2 separate regions of the Homo sapiens genome follow, and region 2 is linked to region 1. The links come from fine-mapping of genetic effects on gene expression. Tissue or cell type: blood mononuclear cells. Region 1 holds a variant in brackets; the other region holds the start of a gene. All regions are shown on one strand. Distances are from middle to middle.

What was found. PIP is the estimated chance that this variant, and not a neighbour inherited with it, causes the effect.
Region 2: it holds the start of SMARCE1, and the variant in region 1 is fine-mapped to the expression of SMARCE1 in blood mononuclear cells (TOPMed, PIP above 0.99).

What each region holds. Positions count from the first base shown.
Region 1 is chr17:40,621,477-40,629,662 of GRCh38, forward strand. SMARCE1 (SWI/SNF related BAF chromatin remodeling complex subunit E1) reads right to left here. Exons shown (of 11, transcript NM_003079.5): 11 at 3,486-7,517. The coding sequence ends at 7,309. Among named protein-coding and RNA genes, the nearest start is that of SMARCE1, 22 kb to the right of the region's middle. RefSeq lists an enhancer at 2,390-2,529. The variant C/T (reference allele first, on the strand shown) is at 4,558.
Region 2 is chr17:40,644,095-40,652,280 of GRCh38, forward strand. SMARCE1 (SWI/SNF related BAF chromatin remodeling complex subunit E1) reads right to left here and starts at 3,724. Exons shown (of 11, transcript NM_003079.5): 1 at 3,679-3,724; 2 at 1,702-1,753; 3 at 1,482-1,525. The coding sequence starts at 1,708. RefSeq lists a silencer at 3,963-4,257.

The DNA of each region.
Region 1 (8,186 bases):
CACAAAGCTAGGCCAGGCAGAGTGGCTTACGCCTGTAATCCAAGCACTTTGGGAGGCCGAGGAGGGCGGATCACTTGAGGCCAGGAGTTGGAGACCAGCCTGGCCATCATGGCAAAATCCCGTCTCTACCAAAAATACAAGAATTAGCTGTGCATGATGACGTGTGCTGTAGTCCCAGCTACTCGGGAGGCTGAGTTAGGAGAATTGCTTGAACCCAGGAGGCGGAGGTTGCAGTGAGCTGAGATCACTCCATTGCACTCCAGCCTGGGCAACAGAACGAAACTATCTCAAACAGAACAAAACAAAACAAACCCTCCGAAACCCACAGAGCTAGTATTTACAAGTTGGAATGTCATCATTGTGAATGTTTCCATCTGCACAAATATCTGGAAAACGACTATTAGGATACCAGCCTTTATTACTGCTCTATTAAGAGAAGCCATTTGCTCCTAAGCCCTTCGCTCTCTTAAAAAAATCATTTTAAGAACTGGAGTGGTTATGAGAAAAGCACCGGTGCTTTTAAAGATTTGCAGAAGGGGGAAAGGTCACTTGGCTGTCAGTTTGAGTTTTTATCTCATAGATGGGGTACCTATCACTCACAGAACTGGAGTCGGATAGACCTGAGTGGGAATCCTGTCTCCATCATAAATTAACTGTGTGATCTTGGACAAGTTATTTAACTTTTCTAAACCTCAGTTTCTCCATCTTTAAAACAGAGATGATATTCATAATATGTCATTAAAAAGTATAACATTAGAATGTGTCGCACACTGAAGAACGTCCAACTCTTGGCAAAGTTCAGTCCAACTAGGCTTGAACATGTTTTTAAAAATATCCTGAGGCTCTGCTCTCCCCGGAAGAAGCTGTAAAGAACAATTCCAGCCCTGGCACTGAGACAATTGGATCTTAGATGAGTCATTCACTTCTCTTTTTTGGGGCCTCAGTTTCCCCTTTGGTAAAATGAAGAGATTAAACCAAATCAGTGATTCTCCAAACTTTGCTAGTCTGCTAGGCTTCTCCTTAGTAGCCTCTAATTCAGTAGTCTTGGGTGGGGTTCAGACAGCTTCCCTAGGAGATTCTGTGCTCAATCTGAGAGCCACCCACCTAAGAACCACAACCACAGCCACCTAGACTCTGACTGACATTTGATGGCTTCAAGGAGGTATTTTAAAGCTATTGTCCCAGAATACGTGGTGTGTTTTTTGAGGAGGAGGAAGATCTATCCACGGCACACATCAGGAAGAGGTGGTTAAAGGTCAGAGAGTTATTCTGCAGAAAATCCATCTGATTTGGTACTTCCTGAAATTTTTGACACCCAACCAGGGATGTCTTTTAAAAGGTTCCCCACTGCTCACAGATTGACAGGAAACCACAACAGGGGTAAAATGCACGCATAACACAGCATACATCAGACATGAGGGTAGTTCTCTATATAGCACAGTATTTTTTATTATTGTAGGCTTACAAATGATTTAAGTCTGTGTGTTTGTGTGTGTGTGTGTACTTTTTCATTTTGGTGGTATGGAAAGCTTTGGAGGGAAGAAGGAAAGGATTCCACAAGGAATAGTTTTTCCATATACATCTCCCATTGCAAGAACACTGATCTCCGAGTGGATTCTTTTGTCTTGAGTCTTTTGAATTATTGATCCACAATGATGAAATCCCTAGCACAGATGTTCAATCTTGATGTCATTTAATATCTCGTACAACAGCCTGAGGCTAATTTTCCTCTCTCCAGGAAAAATGGTTTGTAAGAGTTGATTGATCAACTCAAGCCCAAGATCACAAATATAAACTTCATTGGTAAAGTGATCTACTCTAATATTATCTTCAGGGATTAGAAAATAAAAAGTATAAAAAGTGCATGAGCATACAGTAAGTGCTCAACAAATGTTGGCTTTTATTATTATTAGGTGATCATGGAATTAACTTTCACTAATTTGCCCTTGAGTTATAAGCCGCTGTTGACCCGGGGATAGTTTCTAAAAAGACAAATCTCCTGCAACTGCAGGTAGCAGAAGATAGACCTTCCCATTAGTGCTGTCTTCTCCTAAGCGTGTTATCCAGACCACCATGTGGGATCCTTGGGATGATTTTGGGTAGTACACAGACCATTTAAATAATGTTCTTTGAAAAAAAAAAACTTTATTTAAAAAATAGAGACAGGGTCTTGCTATGTTGCCCAGGCTGGTCTTGAACTTCTGAACACAAGCGATCCTCCTGCCTTGGCCTCCCAAAGTGCTGAGACTTGGCCTTAAATAATACTCTTTTAAATAGTACGTATTTAGGCCTAAAGAGAACTACTAAAATATTTGCGTTAAGGTTATTTTCTTTTTTGACAAAAGACAATGGTTTTAACATTTATGCTGATATACAGTTTCCCTTTAAAATAAATCATTCAAGTGGAAGAAGCTGATTCAAAGAAAGCTGCTAAGTAATAATAGCACAAGTTGTACCCAGAAATGGTAAAAATTGTGATGGTGGCATGCAAATGACCGAGTTTGAGAAGTACTAGATCAGTGAACTGAACCTGTGTGCTCCCCGTTGGGCTACATCTGAAAACATTCGTCAACACTCATTTCATGGAGCTTGAATCCGTAGTACAGTTACAAAACTTCTGTGCTGTACAGGACCTTGAGGTCATCGTGGGACCACCCCTGTATTTTAGGCAGATGGTTTCCATGATCTGGAGATGTTGTGTCTCAAGTGCAATACACTGGGGAGGAAACACGACTTTACCAGATTAGAGAAAACCATGTTTGAAAAGAGACAGTCCTTCTATCCCAGGAGAGACACATTGGAGGGGAGACGACAGGACAATGAGAATGTAAACTATCTACGTTCCAAATTTTTCTGTACATTAAAAAAATTAAAAATTCTAAAAAAGAAAACGGAAATTGTCTTCTGAAAGGATCTCAAGGAGCACATGTCTTGAAATACCTGAAGATCTTTTACTTGGAAGGTGATGACATGTACTCTAATTGACTTCAAGTTGTGTAAGAGGGAGGCTGAAATTATAGGAAGACAGATTTTTAGTTCAGTGAGAGGAAATACCTTTAGTGAACTAAAGAAGGAATGAGCTATCTTAAGACATGATGGGCTCCCCAAGACTAGAAGTATTTATTTAAACAGAACCATGACGACCTTAGGGGACCTGGGACCAAGTGCTAGACGGGTGTGGAGGTGGCTGACCGAGGGTCCTTGCTGCCCCTTAAAGTCAAGGAGTTTAAGGCAGCCTTTCCTTTCTTTCAAGTGGCTCCTCAAAGGGAGCCATTATCTGCAGCTACTGTCTCAGTTTTATGTAAAGAGTATTTATCATTTGGGAATTTCCCCTCCCCATATAATACTTTTGACTCCTGAATGCATGCAAAAGAGCTGTAAGAAACTTTCTGGTGCTAAATGAGAAAATGTGTGAACATAAATGAGCTAGTTTAACTAAAAGTTCACCAAAATGTATTTTAAACATCAGGCTCTTAAAAACTCAATAGTTTGAAATTTGCATTTTAATCAGCGTTTGGCTAACAATATGAGATAAACTATTAGAGAAGTGTAGGTCATTCTGGCAAATAGAAAGTTCCATCATTTCACACTTAGAAAGCTGCCACGAAGAGCTTATTCTTGGAGTATAAAATGCAGAATTTAGGTTAAGCCAGTCATTTTGTAGATGAAATTGTACACTGGCAATTTCTTATGGTTCAACCTAATAGTAAAACATTTATAAACAATTGTATCATTACAAATACATTTAGACATCGTTTTCTGCTAAACTCAGTATTTTCCTTTCCATCCTGATCAAAGAAACATTATTGCAGTAAGCCACATTATAATTCAGCACGATTTCTTCTAAAAAGGCTCCGAGTTCCTTTGAGCTTGTTATTGTACAGTGGATTTTTCATTTGCAAAGACGTTAAGCCCTCCAAATGTGCAAATCATGAAGTCAGTTGTTGTTCCAGCAAGGTTTGCCCAGCGGTAAAAAACAAGATAAAACTAATGCACTAGCTGAAACCAGGTGGGGAGACCATGTGTGGTAGTGCTTGGGGGTGGAGGGAAACTATTTCTGAAATGAGGACTTAAAGTATAATACCAGCTTCACTGCCTGTTCACGAGAAACCAAAGCTTCAATTTAACTGCAGGCAATAGGAGTTTCACACTGTCAGCACCAACTGTCTAAAATCCAAAACTAGTATCTAAATGTGTAGGATCAAAACCAAAAATCTGGAGGGATCTAGTTAAACTTCAATATGCATGACCCCAGATTCCCCTTTAAAATATAGTCCAAGTATTTTATCTTTTCCATAGGGCATTGACATTATTGTGTTAATGTGAAATAGCTATTTACCTCTCCAAACCTCGGCTTTATAGAATAGATAATTATCACATCCTGTAGGAGAGCCATTTGAAAAGACAGCCTTGTTTACAGACAGGAGAAGTTACAGAATTTAAAACTGTTAGAAAATTGGGGGACTATGGGGCTGGGCGCGGTGGCTCACGCCTGTAATCCCAGCACTTTGGGAGGCAGAGGAGGGTGGATCAGGAGGTCAAGAGTTCGAGACCAGG[C/T]TGGCAAACATGGCAAAATCCTGTCTCTACTAAAAATACAAAAATTAGCCGGGCGTGGTGGCGGGCGCCTGTAATCCCAGCTACTCAGGAGGCTGAGGCAGGAGAATTGCTGAAACCCAGGAGCTGGATGTTGCAGTGAGCCGAGATGGCGCCATTACACTCCAGCCTGGGCAACAGTCAGACTGTCTCAAAAAAAAAGGAAAATTGGGTGACTATCGAGGATTCCCCTCTCCCATTTGTTAAAAAAAATTAACAAAATTTAGGCCCTCAGACTTTATGCATTCATACTCAAAATAAATGCACTAAAAATCAAGGAGCAGTAAGGGCACCAAGAAAGAGCAGTTTGATCTATTTTATAATTAAAACAGGCTCGAGTTCAAGCTACTTGCCCAGCACCTTTTGGGACATGGGAAAAAAACAAAGACCTCTACCATATCCCACATTCTCTAAACTGAGAACCATCTCAAACATCAAGTCTACATATATCACTCTGACCAAGTGGATTTTTACATCAATCTTCCCCTGCTGAGGTTCAGAGCTGTCAAATCCCAACTGAGGCCGGGCACAGTGGCTCACGCCTGTAATCCCAGCACTTTGGGAGACTGAGGCAGGCGGATCACCTGAGGTCACGAGTTCAAGATCAGCCTGGCTAACATGGTGAAACCCCATCTCTACTAAAAAATACAAAAATTAACCGGGCATGGTGGCGAGAGCCTGTAATCCCAGCTGCTCTAGAGGCTGAGGCAGAGAGAATTGCTTGAACCTGGGAGGTGGAGGTTGCAGTGAGCTGAGATCGCCACCACTGCACTCCAACCTGGGCGACAGATTGAGACGTCTCCCATCTGACTTAATTCCCTCATCAACTGATTGCCAGTGTTGTATGGACAGGCTTGGTCTGGATAGACTTGTCTTCCCACTGCTATTTCCAGCCGGGCAAAAGAACCACTTCCATTCTCTTAGAGCTTTCGATACCACAGTAAATAACCTGGTATCTTGCTGGGGCAGTTTTCCACCCATATTAAACTACATCTGCCCCATTTTGACTACTAGAAAATGTATCAAAGAGGCTGTCCAATTTGTCTGAGATGAGATGGCTGAAGTTCTTAGCCAAATAATGGCCAAAGCTCAAAACAGATCTATTTGATACAAATTCGTTCTTTGACACACAAGGAAACAGATGTCAAGAGTTGTTTCCACCCAGTATCAAGCTTCCTCCCCTCCTCTCTCAGGAGGCTGAACACACATTCCTAGTCACTAATGTGCTATGAACTGAATAGCAGTGAATCCACTTAAATTAACTCATGCTGGTACAGAGTCCTCTCCATATAGGCACAGGACTTAACATTTATCATTTAGCCATTCTTTCAAAGATAATTCAAACGTTACAGATTTCTCCATATTCCTGTTAATGTAGAAACATATTCCCTTTACTTTTGGAATCAAAGACCAACTTCCATATGTGACAATGACTATAATGTAAGAAAACTGATTTTCACAAGTGTCTTGTACAAATAAGCTACTGCAGCAGTTTATAGAGATAGTTGGGTGAGACAAGGGCCCTGAGTACACAAATTTATAATGGCTGAGTGGTCATTCCACACTGTCACTGCATTACAGAAAAAAACTGGATGCTTGTCTTGCATACAAATATGTAGTGCATTAAAAACACTGAGACCTTTTTTTCATTTTTTTTTTTATTACATTTGGACCTTTAAGAAACATATACCATCAGATATACCACTATTCAGTAAAAATCTATTCTAGTTTTTGGGAAGCTTATGTGTCACAAACTATCTTGCTTCTAGTCTCCAAGACTTTACTAAGTTTATCAAAAAGGTGGGCTCTGGTCTATGGGATCCTGAGCCTTGAGGTTTGGATGTTCTGATTATTGTAAAACAATTTCAAGTGGATTAACTTAATTCCCAGCTGTTTTTCTTCTGGAATGGGCTAATCAGTTTGAATTATCTAGTCCATTACAAGAATATTAAATTCCTTGAGCTTTGTGATCTATTCTGTCTTTGGAAAACCTGGTAAAAAAGTAATTTTTTTTCTATACAATAAGGATGGATTTACCAGAACATACCCAGTATTAATCATAACAAAAAGCAGTATAGATAATGTATATGTGCTGTGTTCACTTTAATAACCACTTCATAAGTAACTACTCTAACTATGGGGACTATTTCTGGATCAGTAAGATCCAAGTGTAGTTAGTTACACACTACACTCAGCTTAACACAACTCTTGGTATCTGACATTGATTAAAAGTAAAAAAGGGTAAGTGAACAAATACATACTCATACATGATCACGTTTTTAAGAAGCTACCCTTTGCAGAAGTAAACAAGAGAGGAGACTTTCAGGAAGCTACTGATGGGGACTGGGAAGGTTTAAAGCTATGGCTTTGGTAAGCACCCCAGTGAGCTGTAGGAAGGCATTGTAAGAGTAGATTCTGCAGCATCAAAGGATAATTCTCTAAAAGAGGTGGGTGTTTTCTCAATTAATCTAAATTCTGAGGCTTTCAGCAGTTGAGGGCTAGAAACAAGATCCAAAGAAAAGAGCCATCTTCACAACACTTAAGAAAGGTGACTGACTGAGCCATTAGGCTCATGATGCTAAATGGTCCAAAAGCCTTTGGTGGTGTGATATGGACAAGAAAAAAAATTAATACACAAACCACGTAACACCATTAAAACCAAAAAACATTTTTTCATTAAAAAAAGTATTTAGAACACACAAAACAAGGCAACACTTATTCTTTTTTCTCATCTTCTGGTATGGGATCTGTTGGTGGCTCCTCCACTGTTGCACTGTTGCTCTCCGAGCCAGTGTTACTATCACTGGTTCCTTCCTCTGCCATACTGTCGACCCCCTCCTGCCCACTCTCCTTGTCCTCAGGAGTAGACGTGCCTTCTTCACCATTCTGTTGGCTCTCTGTTGTTTCTTCAAGGTGTGTCTCCTCTGTAATCACACATTTGTCACTGTCAGTTCCAAGATGAAATTTTACTCTAGTTATGCTGACAGTATACAGCTGTGCTGTCCAATATAGAAGCCACTAGCCACATGTGGTTATTAAACCCCTGAAATGAACCAGTGTGACTAAAGAACTTTTAAGAATGTTGGAACAATTTGGGTATGAAAATCTACTTTTTAGCTGTAAATGAATGAAATTTATTAAATAAATGCAGATCAAATACTTCCGATGAAAATTTAGCTTCTGAATTGAGATGTGTATAAAGACTGTTTAAAAAAAGGAAAGCTGATTTTAAAAATGTTCCTTCTGTGTTGAAATAATTTTATTTAGGATATGTTGAATTAAATAAAACATATTGTTAAAACACTTGTTTTGCTTAACTTTTAAAAATATGTCACTAGTAGAAAATATAAAATTTCACGTGACTTGCATTTTATTTCTGTTGGACAGTGAATGAGAGTTAGTCTGTAGTGCTATGGATTAAACGAGGAGAAAGCAGTTGTAGAAATAATATAAGGTTGGTCTTTTAGACACTTTGTTTAAAGTCATGCTGGGCTGTTTCCTGTAAGAAATTAAAAGCATGAGGTTTTAGCTCTAATAGTCTCAAACGATTTTCTTCAGGTTTTTTCCTTGAACTAGGACAGAATCTGAGTAAA
Region 2 (8,186 bases), 23 kb after region 1:
TGTTAATGTGAAACTATAATGACACAAAAATATAACTAAAGAAAGGCAAAAAAAATTCCTTTTTATGCATAATAAATTATAAGGGGACACTTGGTTTTTGAAATATTTTAATCTCAAAAAATCAAGTTTGTCAAGATGATGCATTGTCAGAGGCAGTATTTTTGTCAAAATGACACCTTCAAAGGTAGCATAAATAATAAGAATCACTGTTCAACATTATGAGGCAATAATGTTATAAAAATAAGGGAACTAAAAAAAAAAAAATGGAAAGCAAAACATTATAATTATACCATTTCCAAAGCTGAAGTACATGGTTAGCTCTTTGAGGTCAGAATCTCAATTGTTCAGCTCCACCTGTATAGCCACTAGCAGAATGCCATGGAGATGGTCATAACAAATGTTCTTCGATTTAAGAAAGAAAACAAAGCAAGCATAGGACTTTATAGTCTACTGGAATTAACTTTAGAGCCTGTATATGACATAAATTGAAATGAGAACATATGGTACGGTATCTCTTTTCTAAAGTATCTCACTAAAGAAAAACAAATTGTTGATAAATGTAACTAAAATATGTATCTGAGGGTTAGTAAATATGAGTAGTTTTTTAGCGGAGAAAACTAAGTTACACAAGGACCTAATTAGTAGTGAAAAGTAGACTAGCCTGAAATTTAGGTGGTGGGGGTATGGAAGGAAGGATTAATATTAAAGAACTAATTTTGTAGAATTTGGTCATGCTAACAGTGTTTTTTTAAAAACAAACAAAACCCCCCCTCCCAAAAAACCAACAAGGAAGCCATTTCAGCAAGACCTGAACAGTTACTGCTAAATCTGTTTTGTGGGTTGGAAAATTATTTTACATGCTGACCAAGCTGGGCCAGAGCTTCCTGGGTGAAAAAACACGTTCACAACTACTTAAAACATATATACTTCCAAACCAATAAAATATAATTTATGGAGTGGAATAAGATTCAATAGCAAGATCTGCCCCATAGATAATGAAATCTTTACTTGAACAGCTTGAAAATATTTACAATGAGTAGTTTCAGAAGCTTTATTGTTTAATATGAAAATTTTAGAGAGAGACAAGAAAGGAGAGAAAAACATAACCAGTTGAAGGTTAGGTTTAACAAAATAGCCAGAATGAGCATTCACTCAGTAACAACTTAAAGACTCTTAATAGTGAAGATTAATAAGAAAGAAATGGTAAAACTTTCACTTATTTCCCATTTACAAAGAAAAAACAAAACAAACTGAGCACAGGAGGTTGGAGTTTTACAGTACTGTTTCTTTAAATGTTGGGGTTGGTTCAAGGAAAGATGCAAATAATTATTTTATTTAGTAGGAAGTGCTTTTTTTTTTTTCTTTTAAGCTGAATTTCATCCTGTTGCTGTGATGATTGAGTGACTGTCACTGGAAGACATCTGGGTTTTTGTATCAAGGCCAGAGTTGGCTATTACATTAACAAGAAAATTAAAACTTACTGTTGCAGGAGCTGGGGTGGGAGGTGGGGCATAAGATGGTCTTTCTGTTTGAAAGAAAATAAATAACTTCTTGTAAACAACTGAGATATAATACTATGCAACAAAACTACCAATGGTCCTGTTTTGAAGAAAAAAAAATGAGAGTATTTTGGAATTCCCACTTGCTAGGGCATTAGTCTCTTATTAACATAGATTGATAAATATAAAAATTGAAACTTACTTGACATTTTGGAAGATTAAGTTCTCAGTTCCTTAAGAATGAATCTGAGACACTAAAATAAAAAAAAAAGGAAAAAAAAAAGAGAATCAAAACTCAGCAAGCATACGAGAATGTTTTCCTAATGAATAGGGTAATTTAATTGGTATTTCTGAGTAAAATTACTTCACCTTAATTCCTAGTAATTAAGCCTTTTGTGTATTTTAACTAGTTCTTATAGGTCATTTGGTTGATTAGAATTAAATGACTAAAATAAAGTACTGGGGATATTTAGAAATGTACTTTCAGGTTTTTTCTTGTGATACTAAGCTACCTCTTGTATGGAAAACATTTTGCTGACGCCATGTAAACATTTCATCAGACTGATACAAGGATGAGAATAGAAAGTGATGTATTATCAGGGTCCAACGCAACAAGGCCTACCAGATACTGACAGCTCCCTGATCAGCAACTGTATCATGCTTTTGGGATAACAATTTTTATTAAAATTAGGCAGCATTTTATTCCTGGAAGCAGTGCAAAAGGTAATTGGTATGACAATGAACTTCACATTCTCTTATAATGGTAAATAGCTTCATAAATGCTGGGAATAAATTTTGAGAGTCTACCTGAAAAACTTTTATTCATCATTCACAGCCCATTTCAAAATTTTTCTCCTCAAGGGAACTTTCTTGATACATTACCTGGGCAGAATTAACTGCTCCCCCATCTGTATTCCTATACAGTTTACACAGATCTATATTATTATAACTTTTTTTTAACTTATCAATATGGCTAGATTGTATGCTACTTGGAAAGAGGGACCATGTCAGGACCTAGCTCAATTCTTAGGAAATTTTTTCCTAGTATTACCAGCTCACAACATAACCAGGCACATGTGAGCTTGTTCTTTACATCAACATACATCACAAATAGTGAGGTACAAAAAGACAAAAATTCATCTTTGGAAAGAAGGCAAATAAACTTCTATGACTATTGGAGGTATTTGCAACCAAACATGTGGAATAGATCTGATTTTTCGCTTCTATTATTAATTTTAAGGAAATTCCCTGGAGCATAAGGAATGAGTCCTGGTGTGGAAAGAAACAGCTCATTTTCTCAATGGTCCAACCTGAGTCTTTCCCTCTTAAAGAACAGCCAGAAACCTTTGACTCTGGTGTAGATTTCCTTTCTGCTCACATTAAGGGAGCTGTCAACATCCAGCAGGCCTCGCTGCAGGGGACCCTGACAACTAACATAAGCTCCCTGTACGTTATACTTCATTGTTAATACTTTAAAATTATTGCTCTCTTTTGCTAGAATACAAAATTTAAGAGTGGGCTTGTACATTTGTCCACCGTTGGATCCATCTTTGGTGCCTGGCATAAAAATAAATACCCGATAAATATTTGTTCAAGAAATACTTTATACGGGGTACGCTTATGACACTATTTCGCTTAACACTCACAAGTACTTTATATGTACAGCTATCCCCATTTTACAGATGAAACAAGGGAGTCTCGGAAAGTTTAAACAACTTGTCTGAAGCCATATGCAGCCAGGAAGTGCCAAAGTTGGGTTTCAAACCCAGGCCAAACTATTTCAGAGCTCTGCTCGTCCTCAAGTCGCTGCCTGAACCAATGGGGGAACCTTCTGCCCGGGTGGGGGGTGAACCACGGACCTGCCTTGCCCACGGCTTCCTGAGGTCGCTCTCTTTGTCTTGGAGAATGTACTTTACTAGCAACTCCCCTAAAACGGGGTATTCACAGGTGCTTTGACCAATTTCGGGGGACTGGCCTTGCCTCCAAGGAGGGGGCCCCAGATGGGACTCCCTCCCAACCCTCGCTCTGCTAGGCCTCAAGGAGGCCTCAACCGGCTCCTGGCTCTGGCCCCACGGCCAAGGCTGAACCCCAGCAACCCCCGGGAACTCGGGGTCTAGCCAAGCGGGGACACCACGACTTGCACCCACCGACCCGGTCCGTCCCACTTGGAAACACTCACCCGCGGGCAGAAAAAGCGCCCGCAGCTCCGGCTTCGCTTCCCTTTGTCCCGCGCTCGCCCCGCCCCTCGCGTCCGGAGCTTCCGCACTCGCACTTTCCACACTCTTCTTAATTTTTTTTTTTTTCCGGGCCCCACCCGACCCTCTTTAGAAAAACTAACCTTCTAGTGAAGATGCGGTGATGCTTAGCACACTCAGGGATTTTTTTCAGGACCCATTGGATCCTCAAAACTCCCCGAATTTTGATACTTTCCCAGCCGGGCGCTGATTCGTCACGGCGAAGAGGGCCGAGGAGGCCCGACCTAACACAGAATAGGCCTGGGTTTAGCGGCTGTGAGGAGCCGGAGCCGCCGCAGCGACCGAGGAAGTGGCGGGAGGTGCCGAGCCTTGCGGAGGGGCGGTGGGGGCCGCGGTGGGAGACGGCGGATGGCGCTCAGCGCGAGGCCGCGGAACCACTGTGGCAGCAAGCAGTTCGGCCAGACTCCCGCTGAGCCCGCTCCTGGAGGGGCCCTCCCCGACTCCGGTCTTGCTTTCCTTTAGGCTGTGGGTCAGAGTCTACACTTCACTAAACCTGGGATGGAGGCGTGGAGGACTTGCTTCGCGGCGTTTGCGTCCTCGCAGGCGCCTCGCAGGGCTTCCTGCCCTCACGGCGGGGGAGTAGCTTTGGCGAAAATCAGCACGAGTTCTGCAGTTTTTCCAAGCGCTTTTAGGGTGTAATCGTCCCAGGTTTCTAAGCCAAGGCCCGGAGAGTTGACCCCCTCGCAACAGCTTGTGTGTCCTTGCAGCGCCGCGGGTGCCACCTGGTCTCCGCCTCAGCGCTGCCTCGGCTCCTTCGGTTCCCACCAGCGGGAACGACCGTCCCCACTTTCAGCTTAAACTCATCTGTCCTTCTGGATCCAGCTCAGAGGTCTCTTTGTGATGCCCTCCTGGAACTTCCCCCCTAGTAATCCTTCCTTTGTATTCCCGTGGCTCTTTGATAATAATGGTTGGAGTCCTGAACCCGACCCTTTGTATCGGACCGTGTTTGTCATCTCCAGTGCTTTATGAAGGCCTTGAAAGCAAGGTTCAGCCGTCTGTATTGGTCATCTTCCCATTGCCAGTGCCTACGAAGGGCTTGACCCATTCATTGTTAGACGCTCAGTAAGTGTGTATTGAGGCAGCCCTCTGTGCCACTCCAGGGCTCTTTCCACTAAATCATGAGTATGTTGGTTTACCAGATGGAATGAGTAGCCTCTTCTTTGGATACATAAACACCCGATGGATATTGTGGGTCACTGTGGAGGGAGAATGAACGTATGGGATCCCTGACCTGTGGTTACTGGAAAACAGTTGACATTTAGAGAGAGGCTGAATTCTTGGGCTTCCCGTAGCCCCCATCCTGAGTGTGCCAACAGGGACTAGAAGCATCTCTAGTCTGCAAAGCGAGGAACAAGTGATACTCTGTCCAATTTTTCCAATATTGTTATACTCATGAATAGAGATTAATGAAATTGAAGAGCATATTCAAGAGAAAGACTAAAGGAGAAGTCGTCTGCCCCGTGGACAGGCAGCTTGAGTGGTGCTTGAGAAAATGTACATGAAATTGCTTGTTAAAAAATATTCACGCCTGTAATCCCAGCTCTTTTGGGAGGCCGAGGCGGGCAGATTACTAGGTCAGGAGATCGAGACCATCCTGGCTAACACGGTGAAACCCCGTCCCTACTAAAAATACAAAAACAAAATTAGCCGGGCGTGGCGGCGGGCGCCTGTGGTCCCAGCTATTGGGGAGGCTGAGGCAGGAGAATGGCGTGAACCCGGGAGGCGGAGCTTGCAGTGAACGGAGATGGCGCCACTGCACTCCAGCCTGGGCGAGAGAGCGAGACTCTGTCTCAAAAAAAAAAAAATTATATATATATATATGTATATATCCATCAGAGACATGTAAAGGATTAAAGTACGATACACAAAGGCCTCAGAAGGGATTTCAGTACATTCTTTTTCTGGCTTCGTCCAGCAACTCCAGCCTGGTTTCTTCCCTGCCTTTGGGATTATGGTGGGAGGATTGGGCGAGTGCAGTGCTGGGGAGGCGCTGTGTGTTGTCTCTAGGCAGTCCTCTGAAGAAAAACTGCAGGTTTTGGATGTTAAGAATAAAGCACCCTATAGTAGGAAAGGGGTGGCCCAAAAACGGCAAAAAGGGAAAGGAGGGGACCTAAGTGGAGCAGTGACATTGTCTGATACACTTTCTCACTGGGTTTCTGCTCAGATGTCACCTTCTTAGTAGGTGTTTCCTGACCTTTTTAAAATTGCATCTCATTCCCCAACCCCCGGTGTCTGTTCATGGCCTGTGCTTTACTTTTTCTGTAGCACTTGTCGCTACCTAACATACTATACTTCTTATGAATTTATTTTGTTTTGTCTTTTTCTTCTTCTTTTCTTTTTTTTTTTGAGACGGAGTTTCGCTCTTATTGCCCAGGCTGGAGTGCAATGGCGCGATCTTGGCTCACTACGACCTCCGTCTCCCGAGTTCAAGTGATTCTCCTGCCTCAGCCTCCCAAGTAGCTGGGATTACGGCATGTGCCACCACACCCTGCTAATTTTGTATTTTTAGTAGAGACGAGGTTTCACCATGTTGGTCAGGCTGGTCTTGGACTCCTGACCTCAAGTGATCCACCGCCTCGGCCTCCCAAAGTGCTGGATTACAGGCATGAGCCACCGCACCCAGCCGTCTTTTTTTTCCCATCAGGGTGGAGATTTTGACATCTGGAACAGTACACAGCACATTTAGATGCTCAATACTTGTGGAGTAAATAAATGAATGACTCATTTTCTTCGCTTGGTTCTTTCTCTACCAAAGATTTGAAAAATTAAGAAACACCAGCCTGGCAACATAGGGAGACCCCATCTCTTAAAAAAAAAATTAGCCAGGTGCGGTGGTGCACATTTGTGGTCTCAGTTATTTGGGACGCTGAGGTGGGAGGATCGCTTGAGCCTGGGAGGTCAAGGCTGCAGTGAGCCATGATCATGCCACTGCACTCCACCCTGGGTGACAGAGGCCCTTTCTAAAAAAAAAAAAAAAGAAAAGAAAGAAGGATATAGGCAAGAGATAATAGAAAAATAATCTGTTCTCTAGTCCTGAAGAAACTAAAACTGAAGAGTGAATTATCCAGCAAGATGGACTTTACTTATTATGAGTTTTTTTCCCCCAAAGCAAACACCAGAACATATGCTCTTGCCTTTAGAAGGATATTTATGGTAACTACAGGACAGATGTTTGGAGTTGTGATTATTCCCAGAAAATTTGGGATACAGCATCAATATGACTATTTAAACTAAATATAACTATAAGGGTAGTTGGGAGCACTCACGTGGGACCAGTGGTTAACCCCAGAGATAATCTTAGGCCCAATTAAGACCTAACTTAGGCCTTAGTTTTCATTCTGGCAGCAAGATCCAGAAACGTGGCCTGCTTTCCCCTCTGACACTACTCATACTTTTTTGGGGTTCTTCTTTCCCCAAGACAGGGAAGCCAAAACTAAGTAAGCTAAGGTTCTAGTCCAGGTGTCTTTGAGTTCTTTCCATTGTTCTGTGGGAAGAAACGGGTGATGGAGACAGAGTTAGGGGTAGGACTGGGAAGAAAGGAGAAAAAAGGAGAAAATAAGACAGAATAAGGAAAAACCTGAAGTCCTTGGACACCCAGTAGTCCATGAATAGGCTCTAAGTGATCTATGAACCCTTTAAAATTATACTCAATTTTTATGGGCTTTTTTCCTGATAGGTTAATTCTTTCATGAGATTTTCAAAGAGGTGCGTGACTCAAGAAAGATTATGAACCAACCACTGAGCCATGGAGTTTGTAGTATGTTCTTTTGAAGCTTTTATAATGGATTTTTTTTTTCTTAAACAAGGGAAAGCGAGAGCAAAGCTTTACTTGACCCAAATAGCCTATGAAAGTCTGATTATAGACAACATGATGAAACAAACTAATTTTCTCAGCTGTTTCTGTGAGAGCAGAAGGAGTTATGGGTATTCTGTTTTCTGTAGCTGGAAATAGTTGTGAAATATTGAAGTTTAGCAGCTTTCCAGGACAGAGTGATCCACACTGTTTTACAGAATTTAAAAAGCACGGTTTGCTTTGAGAACCCTCTATGTTGCCCTCAAAATAACCTGGAGGATTTGGGACATGAGTGTTGCCCCATGGTGTGGAAAAGGATGAACGTTGAAAACAGGGTAGAGCTGGAGAATCTGGGTTGTGGGGTCTATTATCCACTGATAATATTGGGAGTCTAGGGCACAGTAGCCAAACGAGATTGTTGCAGGCCGTTATCTGGGCTGCCTCCTGTTTTTGTAATAAACCCTTATTTGGACACAAGCACCTTCATTTATTTACGTATTGTCTTTGGTTGCTTGTGGTTACAAGGGAAGGGTTGTGTAGTTGTTACAGGGATCCTATGGCCTGAAAAGCCTAAAATATTTGCTCTCTGGGCTTCGATGGAAAAGGTTGCCAAGCCTGGTCTAGAGTCTAAGCATGTGA